2 linked regions of the Homo sapiens genome follow. The protein of the gene in region 1 interacts with the protein of each later gene in a pairwise test. Each region holds a gene or a part of one and is shown in the gene's direction. Other genes may lie near its edges.

Region 1 (7,095 bases):
CACTTTGGGAGGCCAGATTCCTTGAGACCAGTGTGGGGAACATGGCAAAACCTTGTCTCTAGGAAAAATAGCCAGGTATGGTGGCATGTACCTTAGTCTTAGTGATGTGGGAGGATTGCTTGAGCCTGGGAGGCAGAAGTTGCAGTGAGCTAAGATTGCAACGCTGCAGTCCAGCCTGGGTGATAGAGTGAGACCCCATCTTAAAAATAAAATAAAGATATAAATGACATCCAATAAAGTACACATATTTGAGCTGTAGGATAAGTCTTGAATTTTATTATAATCCCGTGAAACCATCATCAGAGTCACCATAATGAATTTATCTAATCTATCACCTTTGTATTTACTTGGAGCCTTTATAAAGTTTTTCTCTCTGCTCTTCAAACAACCATTGATTTACTTTGCTGTATGATGGAGTACTTTCCATTTTCTGGAATTTTCTGACTGATGTAATAAAGTGTTTCCTCTTATAATCCCTGGGTGCTCTCCTGCATCATGCTTATTTTGATGTCATTGTAGATATATGAGTTGTTCATTCGTTTTATGTTGCTGAGAAGTATAGTCTGCCGTGAAATGTCATTGTATATTCATTCATTCATCCATCCATTTATGGATATTTTAGTTGCTGCATACTTTTTTTTTTTTTTTTTTTCAAGACTCTCTACCAGGTTGGAGTGCAGTGGTGTGATTTTGGCTCATTGCAACCTCCACCTCCCAGGTTCAAGTGAGTCTCCCACCTCAGCCTCCCACGTAGCTGGGATTACATGCGTAAGCCATCATGCCCAGCTGTTTTTTGTATTTTTAGTAGAGATGGGGTTTCACTGTGTTACCGGGTTCATCTCAAACTCTGGGCCTCAAGTGATCTGCCTGCATTGGCCTACAAAAGTGCTCAGATTACAGGCCTGAGCCATGAGCCACCGCACCTGTAATTGATTCTGAGGCCAGGCACGATGGCTCACGCCTATAATCCCAGCACTTTGGGAAGCGCAGGTGGGTGGATCACTTGAGGTCAGGAGTTTGAGACCAGGCTGGCCAACATGGTGAATCCCCATCTGTACTAAAAATACAGAAATTAGCCAGGCATGGTGGCGCATGCCTGTAATCCCAGCTACTCACTCAGGAGGCTGAGGCAGGAGAATCACTTGAACCCAGGAGGCAGAGGTTACAGTGAGCTGAGATCACACCACTGCACTCCAGCCTGCGCAACAGAGTGAGACTCTGTTTCAAAAAAGAAAAAAAAAAATTTATTCTGAGATAATCCCAGTTCCCAGTGTGAAACTATTCCTGCAGTCACTGGAAAATAATAACCACTTTCTTGTAAGGAGATGAAATTTTGGAGCTCAGATGCCGTGTTTATATTGTTATTCAGATGGCCTTTTTAACCTGTGCTTTAATGGTGAAAGTTGTAGCGACTGATGTGTGTACCACAATGGCATTGGCTAAGTTGCTCGTCCTTTGAGATAGATGTCAATGTGATTAAAGAAATTGAGTACACCTTAGCATATGAATTAAGAAACATATTGACATAGTGATCCTCATAGTGACATAGATCAGCAGGACTTGTGTTCTGAGCACTGGTCATGACCCTGCTCATGATGAAACAGGATCTGGTCAAAACAGGATGCACTAAAGAAACCAGCTGAAAGCAGTAAAACTAAGATGGCAAGAATATGAACTCTAGTTACCCTCATTGCCTCACTGCTCATTATATGCTCATTATAATGTATTAGCATGCTAAAAGACACTCCCACCAGCACCATGGCCGTTTACAAATGCTATGGCAATGCCCAGAAGCTACCTCATGTAGTTTAAAAGAGAAGGAACCCCTGGTTCTGGGAACTCCCCACTCTTTTTCTAGAAAATTCATGAATAACCCACCTCTTATTTAGCACATAATTAAGGAGTAGCTATAAATATAGCTAGCCAACAATCCACGGGTGCTACTTTGCCTGTGGAGTAGCCCTGCTCTGTCTGTGGAGCAGCCATTTTCCTGTTCTCTTGCTCTCATAAACTTGCTTTGCCTTCACTTTACACTCTTGGCTTGCTCTTGAATTATTTCCTTTATGAAGCCAGGAACCCTCCTGGATTGAGCCCCAATTTTGGGATTTGCTAGCATCACTAGAGCAATTTTCTGTGGGAACCAGTGGCCAACTGCCAGCTTCACTACCTGCTTCAGGGTGTACCAACATCCGTCTATTTCCCTGTCATTAGATCTTTATTATTATTTTATTTTTTTGAGACGGAGTCTAGCTCTGTCGCCAGGCTGGAGTGCAGTCATGCGATCTCAGCTCATTGCAACCTCTGCCTCCAGAGTTCAGGCGATTCTCCTGCCTCAGCCTCCCGAGTAGCTGGGACTACAGGTGTCTGCCACCATGCCCAGCAATTTTTTTAACATGGGTTTTGCTGTGTTAGCCAGGATGGTCTTGATCTCCTGACTTCATGATCTGTCCACCTCGGCCTCCCAAAGTGCTGGGATTACAGGCGTGAGCAACCGTGCCCGGCTAATTTTTTTATTTTTATTAGAGATGGGGTTTCACCATATTGGTCAGGCTGGTCTCGAACTCCTGACCTCATGATCCACCTGACTCAGCCTCCCAAAGTGTTGGGATTATAGGCATGAGCCACTGCACCCAGCAATTTATTTATTTTTTATTTTTTATTTTTTTTGAGACAGAGTCTCACTCCTGTTGCCCAGGCTGGAGTGCAATGGCATGATCTCGACTCATCGCAACCTCCACCTCCAGGGTTCAAGTAATTCTCCTACCTCAGCCTCCCGAGTAGCTGGAATTGGAGGCATGCAGCACCATGCCTGGAAAATTTTGTACTTTCAGTAGAGACACGGTTTCTCCATGTTGGCCAGGCTGGTCTCGAACTCCCGACCTCAGGTGATCCACCTGCCTTGGCCTCCCAAAGTGCTGGGATTACAGGTGTGAGCCACCATGTCTGGCCTTTATTTTTATTTTTTGTGGGTATATAGTAGTGTATATATTTGTAGATTACATTAGATATTTTGATGTAGCCATGCCATATGTGATAATCACATAGGGTAAATGGGGTCTCAGTCACCTCAACATTTATCCTCTGTATTATAAACAGTCCAGTTATACTCTTTTAGTTATTTTTAAATATATAATTAAATTATTTTGACTATAGCCACCCTGTTATGGTAGCAAATATTAGGTCTTATTCATTTTTGCTCACTGTTTTTTGTACCCATCCTGTCATCATGTCTTATGGAGAATTTTCTTTTGTTCCCAACAAAACAATGAAACTCGCAAAACTGACTGTAATGATTCAGTCTACGTGAATTTAAAGAGCAATCAATACTTAATGTTCTCAGCTCTGAGTGCACACATTGTAAGTCTGAATGATGCCAATGATATGGCCACTTAGATAAGTAAAGTTTGGGAGCATCTCAAATAGTATTTTTATTCTCTGGGTGCAGGATGAGCTTCCTAGAGTCTGATGTGATACCTATTTGATGCTTTTACAAAGAATCAATAATCTTCCTCCTTTGAGGTGTGAGCAGGGCTTTCCAGCAGCCCTCAGAATGTAACATGGTCTGCATTCGGTTTGCTCTTGGAGGATACCACCATTGTTGGCTGAGAGCTCTGGGAAGTACTTTACCCAGAAGGCGCTAGTTGCAAGGCCCAGGATGAGGGATTTCTGGGCATGCTTGTCAGGCCAGGGAGTACTGGGTTGGGACTGAGAAGGCACAAGAGGAGTAGTCATCTCTGCTCCCAAGTGGCAGGTCTGAGGCTCATAGGCACTGGCTGGGGTGATGCCTGCTCCACCCACAGTTGATGGCAGCAGCCACACTGAGGGACCTAGCTCAGGTAAATGCTGTGTATTACAGGCTTCACCCCAGCTAGAGTAATACAGGTAGAGGAACCAATAGGTACAAAGGCTTGGAGGTGCATCTGAGCCATGAACATTTCAGAACCTGGTAACCATGTTGTGTCATGGAAAGTGGGGAACTACATTACCCAGAAAGCTCTGCTTTAAACGACAGCCGGTCAGAGCCAGTGAGCACTCGGAAAGAAGGCATTTCCACGTGTGCACGTAACGTAAGGCCGAGACTTCCGGGGTCTCTAGTAGCGGCTGTGTATCGGCGATGCGGGTGTTTCCCCAGTTTGTGGCCCCTGAGTGCTGGGTGGGACCGCGGTGACTGAACCTAGAAGGTGGAGAGGAATCGTCCTCGGTGCCCAGAGGCGGCTCTGCAGCCCCGTGACGGCGACCACTGCTCCCGGGCCGTGCTTCCCCAAGTAGTCCGATGGCAGCGGCTGTGCCGAGGCGCCCAACTCAGGTAATTGTGGTGCCTTCTGTGCCCTCAGGTCACCCCATCGTCACCCAGGTCCTAAACCAGCGAGGGAGCGGCTCCTGCTCGTGGGTCTGTAGCCGGTACCCGGCGTAGGAACACTGAGGCGCTCACAGGAGGCCTCTCCTTGTAACCGTCCAGTGGGTTCACGTTGCCAGCTGCCTAGACAGAGCCGATTTATGAAGACTGGGGAATTGCGATGGAGAAATAGTAATTCACGCAGAGCCGTCCTGCTGTTCGGGAGACAGGAGTTTTATTATTCAAATCAGTCTCCCTGAGCATTCTGGGATCAGAGTTTTCAAAATTTGGCGGGTAGGGGCTTGGGAAGTGGGGAGTGCTGATCAGTCTGGTTGGAGATGGATTCATAGGGGGTTAAAGTGAGTTTTTCATGCTGTTTTCTGTTCTGGGTGGGATGGCAGAACTGATTGACCCAGATTACCGGTCTGTGTGTTGTCCGCTGATCCATCCAGTGCAGGATCTGCAAAATGCCCCAAGCACTGATCTTAGATATTGGGGAAACCAGCCCCACACCACCCAGCAGATACCCCGAGTCCTGCGGAGACAAAGGAGTTAGAAAGAGACAGAATACGCATTTAAAAGGCGGGTCCAGGTGGCCAGAGCATTGGAGGCTTCCTGGCGGCCCAGAGCTCTTGGGCTCCACCCAGTTTATTGGTTTACAAGCTCTTTGTTCTTATGGCTGATTGGAGGGGGAGGAAGCGATCAGGAAAAGGATTAATCAGTAAAGGAGAACTCGTGAGTCATTCCATAAGATGTAAAGCACTGGCCGTTTCTGTGAATTTCCTTGAACAAAGGCGTGTGTCTAAACTACTTAAGATCTTTAACTTAACTGAAACGGGTGGCTGCGGGTTTCAGGAGGAGCCAAGATGTTTGATTATGCTCCACTGCTTCAAGGGAGTGTGATCTCCCTGAGCAACCCATGGAATGCTGCTGAAGAGTTATGCTCTCGGGGCATAAAGACATGAAGGCAATAAGGAGACTTTTCTCCTCAGAGGCCGCCCATGGCTTCCCATGGGTGTCTCACACAGGGGAGACCAACTCAACTAGCACCCCAGAAACTCACATTAGGTTTTACAATAGTAAGGTTATCTTCAGGAGCAACTTGGGGAGGTTCAGACTCTTGGAGCCAGAAGCTGCATGACCCCTAAACCGTAATTTCTATTCTTGTAGCTAATTTGTTAGTCCTGCAAAGACAGGCTGGTCCCCAGGCAAGAAAGGGGTCTTTTCAGGAAAGGGCTATTATCAATTTTGTTTCAGAGTGAAACCATGAACTGAATTCTTTTCCAAAGTTAATTCAGCCTATGCCCAGGAATGAAAAAAGACGGCTGAAAGGTTGGAAGCAAGATGGAGTCGGTTAGGTCTGATTTCTTTCACTGTCATAATTTCGTCAGTTATAATTTTGCAAAGTCGGTTTCACCTGTTTCTGACACCAGTGGGATGCAGTGGGGAGAGTGACAGGCACAGGTAGGGGTGCAGGCAATGGCCTGCAGATGGACAGAGCTGGAAGGATGGAACCTGGGGTTCACAGGCATCTGTCAGGAACAACGTGTGAGATGGAGCTCTTCCTGGTAGAGCAAGCAGGCCAGGGGCTGTGCATTCATCATGAGGATTCTAGAAGCCATGGAGAGTTTTGAAGAAAGGAGGGACATGATCCAAATCCAGGCTTTTAAGAAGTTTCCCAAAGGCCAATCAAAGGAAGAACATCATAGAGAGAGAGGATGAGGACTTTGGGGCCTTGGGAGGTTGAATCCGTTTTGTAGATCACATAGATGGTAGAGATGACATTTTGCACTGAGAAAAGCAGGTCAGACAACCAGCCTTAGGGTTACCTGGTTCCAGGGACAAGAAAGGGTTCAGGGAGTCCTGAGCTTATCAAATCCTGTGACATGTTTGTAATGTCTGCCTTTCCCCTCAGGCACTCCTGGCTGCAGAAGCACTTAGGGAACCCACACAGGGAAGTGGAGGGTGTTCCATTCCCTCATTGGTCCTGACGCCATCTACAGGTTCTCTAGCTTGTGGTGTCCTGGGACTCTTAAGTGCCATTTTTTTCAGTCCTTTGATCCGAGGACCCTGGAGAATCTCTGAAGCCAGGATACCAAGTCCATGACAGGTTATATGGAGGTATTCCCATTTCTGTCAACCAATGTAAACACCCTTGTAAGATTAACCCAGGATTTGCTACCAGGTTGTGAAATGCTTAGAGATAAAACGGATCAAAGTCAGGAGGTGATATTACCACAGTTCTACCTGGCTACAGGCTTCATCTGGCTGGACCTTGTTGCATAGACTGTGGGTTGAGGGAAGAGGAAGAAAGGTCAGAGATAAGGCTCCTGCCATAATCCAGGTGAGGGTTAATGGATCAGATAAGTGGTAAATCACATGGGTCTGGATTCAGGATTCACTTTTTGTAAAGAGACAGCTAGGTTTTCTTTTTTTTTTCTTAACGTGGAATTTCAGTCTTGTTGCCCAGGCTGGAGTGCAATGGCGCAATCTTGGGCTCACTGGAGCCTCTGCCTCCCAGGTTCAAGCAATTCTCCTGCCTCAGCATTCAAGGTAGCTGGCATTACAGGCACCCACCATCATGCCCAGCTAATTTTTGTATTTTTAGTAGAGACGAGGTTTTACCATGTTGGCCAGGCTGGTCTCGAACTCCTGACCTCAAGTGATCGTCACATCTCGGCCTCCCAAAGTGCTGGGATTATAGGCATGGACCAATGCGCCCAGCCGAGACAGCTAGGCTTTTTTTTTTTTTTTTTTTT
Region 2 (3,009 bases), on another chromosome or scaffold:
GTGGATCCCACTGTCACCCCGGCTGACTGTTTTGCACACTTCCTGCTTTTGTTCCCACTTCCTATCTAGGCAGGATCATAGCAGAGAGGGGGCCTTTTGGGGTGAGAGGGACCGAGCTGAGATAGGCTGGAGATGTCAGGGGACAGAGGCCATTCCAGTGATCTTAGTTCTGCCTTTCTTCCCACGGGTGGCCAAGGAACAGCCTGCTCTTTCTGTGTGTTGGAATGTTATTTTGTGGATAATTGGAGTATAGTAGCATGTCCCCACAAGAGTTGAGAGTTGTGGTTCATCCTCTACCATCACGGGCTCTATTACACTCTTCCCTCTCTGCCCCCACAAGGCTCTGGCGGCTCTTTCAATCTCTCAGGATCTGGAGACATGTTTCTGGGGATGCCTGGGCTCAACGGAGATTCCTATTCTGCTTCCCAGGTCAGATGCCCATCTCCTCTCGAATAGGGCTTTCCCCAACTCCATTTCCTCTACTTTAGGATACAAGACCTCTTTCCTCTGAGGCTTCTCTTCACTGTCATACCTTCCTCTGCTGCCTGCAGGTGGAATCACTCCGACACTCGATGGGGCCAGGGGGCTATGGGGATAACCTCGGGGGAGGCCAGATGTACAGCCCACGGGAAATGAGGGTGAGTGGATCCTGAAGCTCCTCTCTGTCCAGTTCTCACAGGACAGAGGGGCATTTTCCCTAGTAATGTTGTGCCCACACAGGGTTCCCAGGGCTTTCTCTGTTTTCTGTACTCTGTCTCTCCTTTCAGGCAAATGGCAGCTGGCAAGAGGCTGTGACCCCCTCTTCAGTGACATCCCCAACGGAGGGACCAGGGAGTGTTCACTCTGATACCTCCAACTGATCTTGCCCCTCAGGGTCACAGGGGTGGGGGCTCTCACAAGGCGACTTGAAGAGGACGCAGGCTTCCAGAGGACAAACCCCAATACAGGAGAAGCACAAGACAGAGAAGGGCCAATGGGGTCATCCCCTCCCTAACGAGACTCTCTGTGCTGGGGGTGCTAATTACATGGCAGGAAGAATGGGGCCTCTAAGGGGAGTGTGGGGTCTGTCTCTCCCTTTTTTCCATCTTTTTCCTCTCTCGCTTTCTTTCTTACACAGAAACATACACATACCGAGAAACCTATTTCTCAGACCCCTTTTTCTCCTCTGTCTTTCTCTCTCCCTCTCCCACACCTCACACACACATACTCCCACTTGCAACTATTCTGTTTCTCTCCTGGGCTCCCCCACTTTCCCTTCCCCACCCCACTTGTATGCTCTGGAATCTGTGGAGACGCCAGCCCTGCCCAATCAGAGATGCCAAAAATGGGGACATGACTTCTGGACAGAGGACATGGGCCACGCCCCCATGCATCCCCACCCCCGCCCCTCCGGACGGCTTACTTACCTCATACGCAGCTCATCTTAAACCAATAGAATCGCTCGGTGGACGAGAGTGTCTGACTCAGATATCTACCTCGGAGGGAGTTTCTGCTACTTTAGGGAATTATTGACTGGGCTTTGGGGTTGAACTTTTTTTTTTTTAAAGAAAGAAAAAGAAACCCTGGGATCCATCTGTTTTTTTTGTTGTTGTTGTTGTTTTTGTTGTTGTTGGTGGTGGTGGTGGTGGTGGTTCTTAATTTTTAATTTAGTTTGGGGAAGTAGCTTGTTTTTTTTTTTATAAATATGTTGATTTCTTGTCTTTTTTTTTTTTTATTTCTTACTTTCCCATATTAGGGGTGATAGCCAAAGGGGTTCTGGTAAGAGAAAGGGGGACAAACAGAACTGGTAAAGAGGCCCCCCTGGCTCCAGGCCTGTCCATCAGGAAGTAAATTTTACAGGGCACCAAGCTTTGCCCCCTAAAATCCCTTAGGTGTTCTTTGTTCATGCAGGCAGGTTTCTGCCGCATTTGATGTGGAGGCAGTGAAGGGCTTGCCCTGCTGGCCTCTCATCCCCCTTCTTCCCACAACCCTTGGGCAGGGCTGGACTCAGTAATTTTGAGGAAATTGAAGATGCCATCTTCCCCTGTGAGTGACATGTCTTTAATTTTTTAAAAAACTACTATTTGAAAATTGGAGGGGGAAGAATGGGAAGGGAGTTATTGCCAAATATGTTAAATATGGGTTGGGGTGCTTGTATATGTATCTTCCTCAATTTCCCCATAAATGAGGTATCTTTTTGTCACACCAAAATCAAGGGGTAGGGAGAGGGAGGAGGTTGCAAAAAGCCAGATGTGGGGGAAAAGTAACATCAACACTGTCCCATCCTCAGCCCTGAACTAGCTACCATCTGATCCCCTCAGACATTCTCAGGATTTTACAAGACTGTCAGAGTGGGGAACCCCTCCCATTAAAGATCCGGGCAGGACTGGGGACAGGTTGGAAGTGTGATGGGTGGGGGGGTGGGAGGCATGGGCCGGGGGCAGTTCTCTCCTCACTTGTAAACTTGTGTAGTTTCACAGAAAAAAAACAAAATGCAGTTTTAAATAAAGAAATTTCTTTTTTCCCTGGGTTTAGTTGAGAATTTTTTTCAAAAAACATGAGAAACCCCAGAAAAAAAATGATTTTCTTTCACGAAGTTCCAAACAGGTTTCTCTCCTGTTCCCCAGCCTTGCCTTCATGATGCAGGCCCAATTGCACCCTTGCAGACAACAGTCTGGCCTGAACCCTATTGATGCAACTTTGCGCAATCAAGATGGGGCTCCAGTGGGTCACCAGGCAGCCCTGATGGACTGATGGAATAAATAGGATCGGGGGCTCTGAGGGAATGAGACCCTAGAGGGTACACTCCCCATCCCCCAGGGAAGTGACTGTACCCAGAGGCTGGTAGTACCCAGGGGTGGGGTGATAATTATTTCTCTAGTACCTGAAGGACTCTTGTCCCAAAGGCATGAATTCCTAGCATTCCCTGTGACAAGACGACTGAAAGATGGGGGCTGGAGAGAGGGTGCAGGCCCCACCTAGGGCGGAGGCCACAGCAGGGAGAGGGGCAGACAGAGCCAGGACCCTGGA

The links. Proteins that work in one complex are often made in the same cells at the same time.
Region 2: the proteins of ZNF587 (region 1) and PBX2 interact in binary tests that used the Homo sapiens proteins (3 or more experiments, as listed by UniProt).

The regions. Positions count from the first base shown.
Region 1 is NC_000019.10:57,845,766-57,852,860, forward strand, and holds the start of ZNF587 (zinc finger protein 587), read left to right. Parts: upstream 1-4,093; 5' UTR 4,094-4,273; coding exon 4,274-4,306; intron 4,307-4,549; exon of another isoform or gene 4,550-4,796; intron 4,797-7,095. UniProt on the Homo sapiens protein: May be involved in transcriptional regulation.
Region 2 is NC_000006.12:32,184,233-32,187,241, reverse strand, and holds the end of PBX2 (pre-B-cell leukemia transcription factor 2), read left to right. Parts: intron 1-340; coding exon 341-429; intron 430-551; coding exon 552-638; intron 639-767; coding exon 768-860; 3' UTR 861-2,509; downstream 2,510-3,009. UniProt on the Homo sapiens protein: Transcriptional activator that binds the sequence 5'-ATCAATCAA-3'. Activates transcription of PF4 in complex with MEIS1.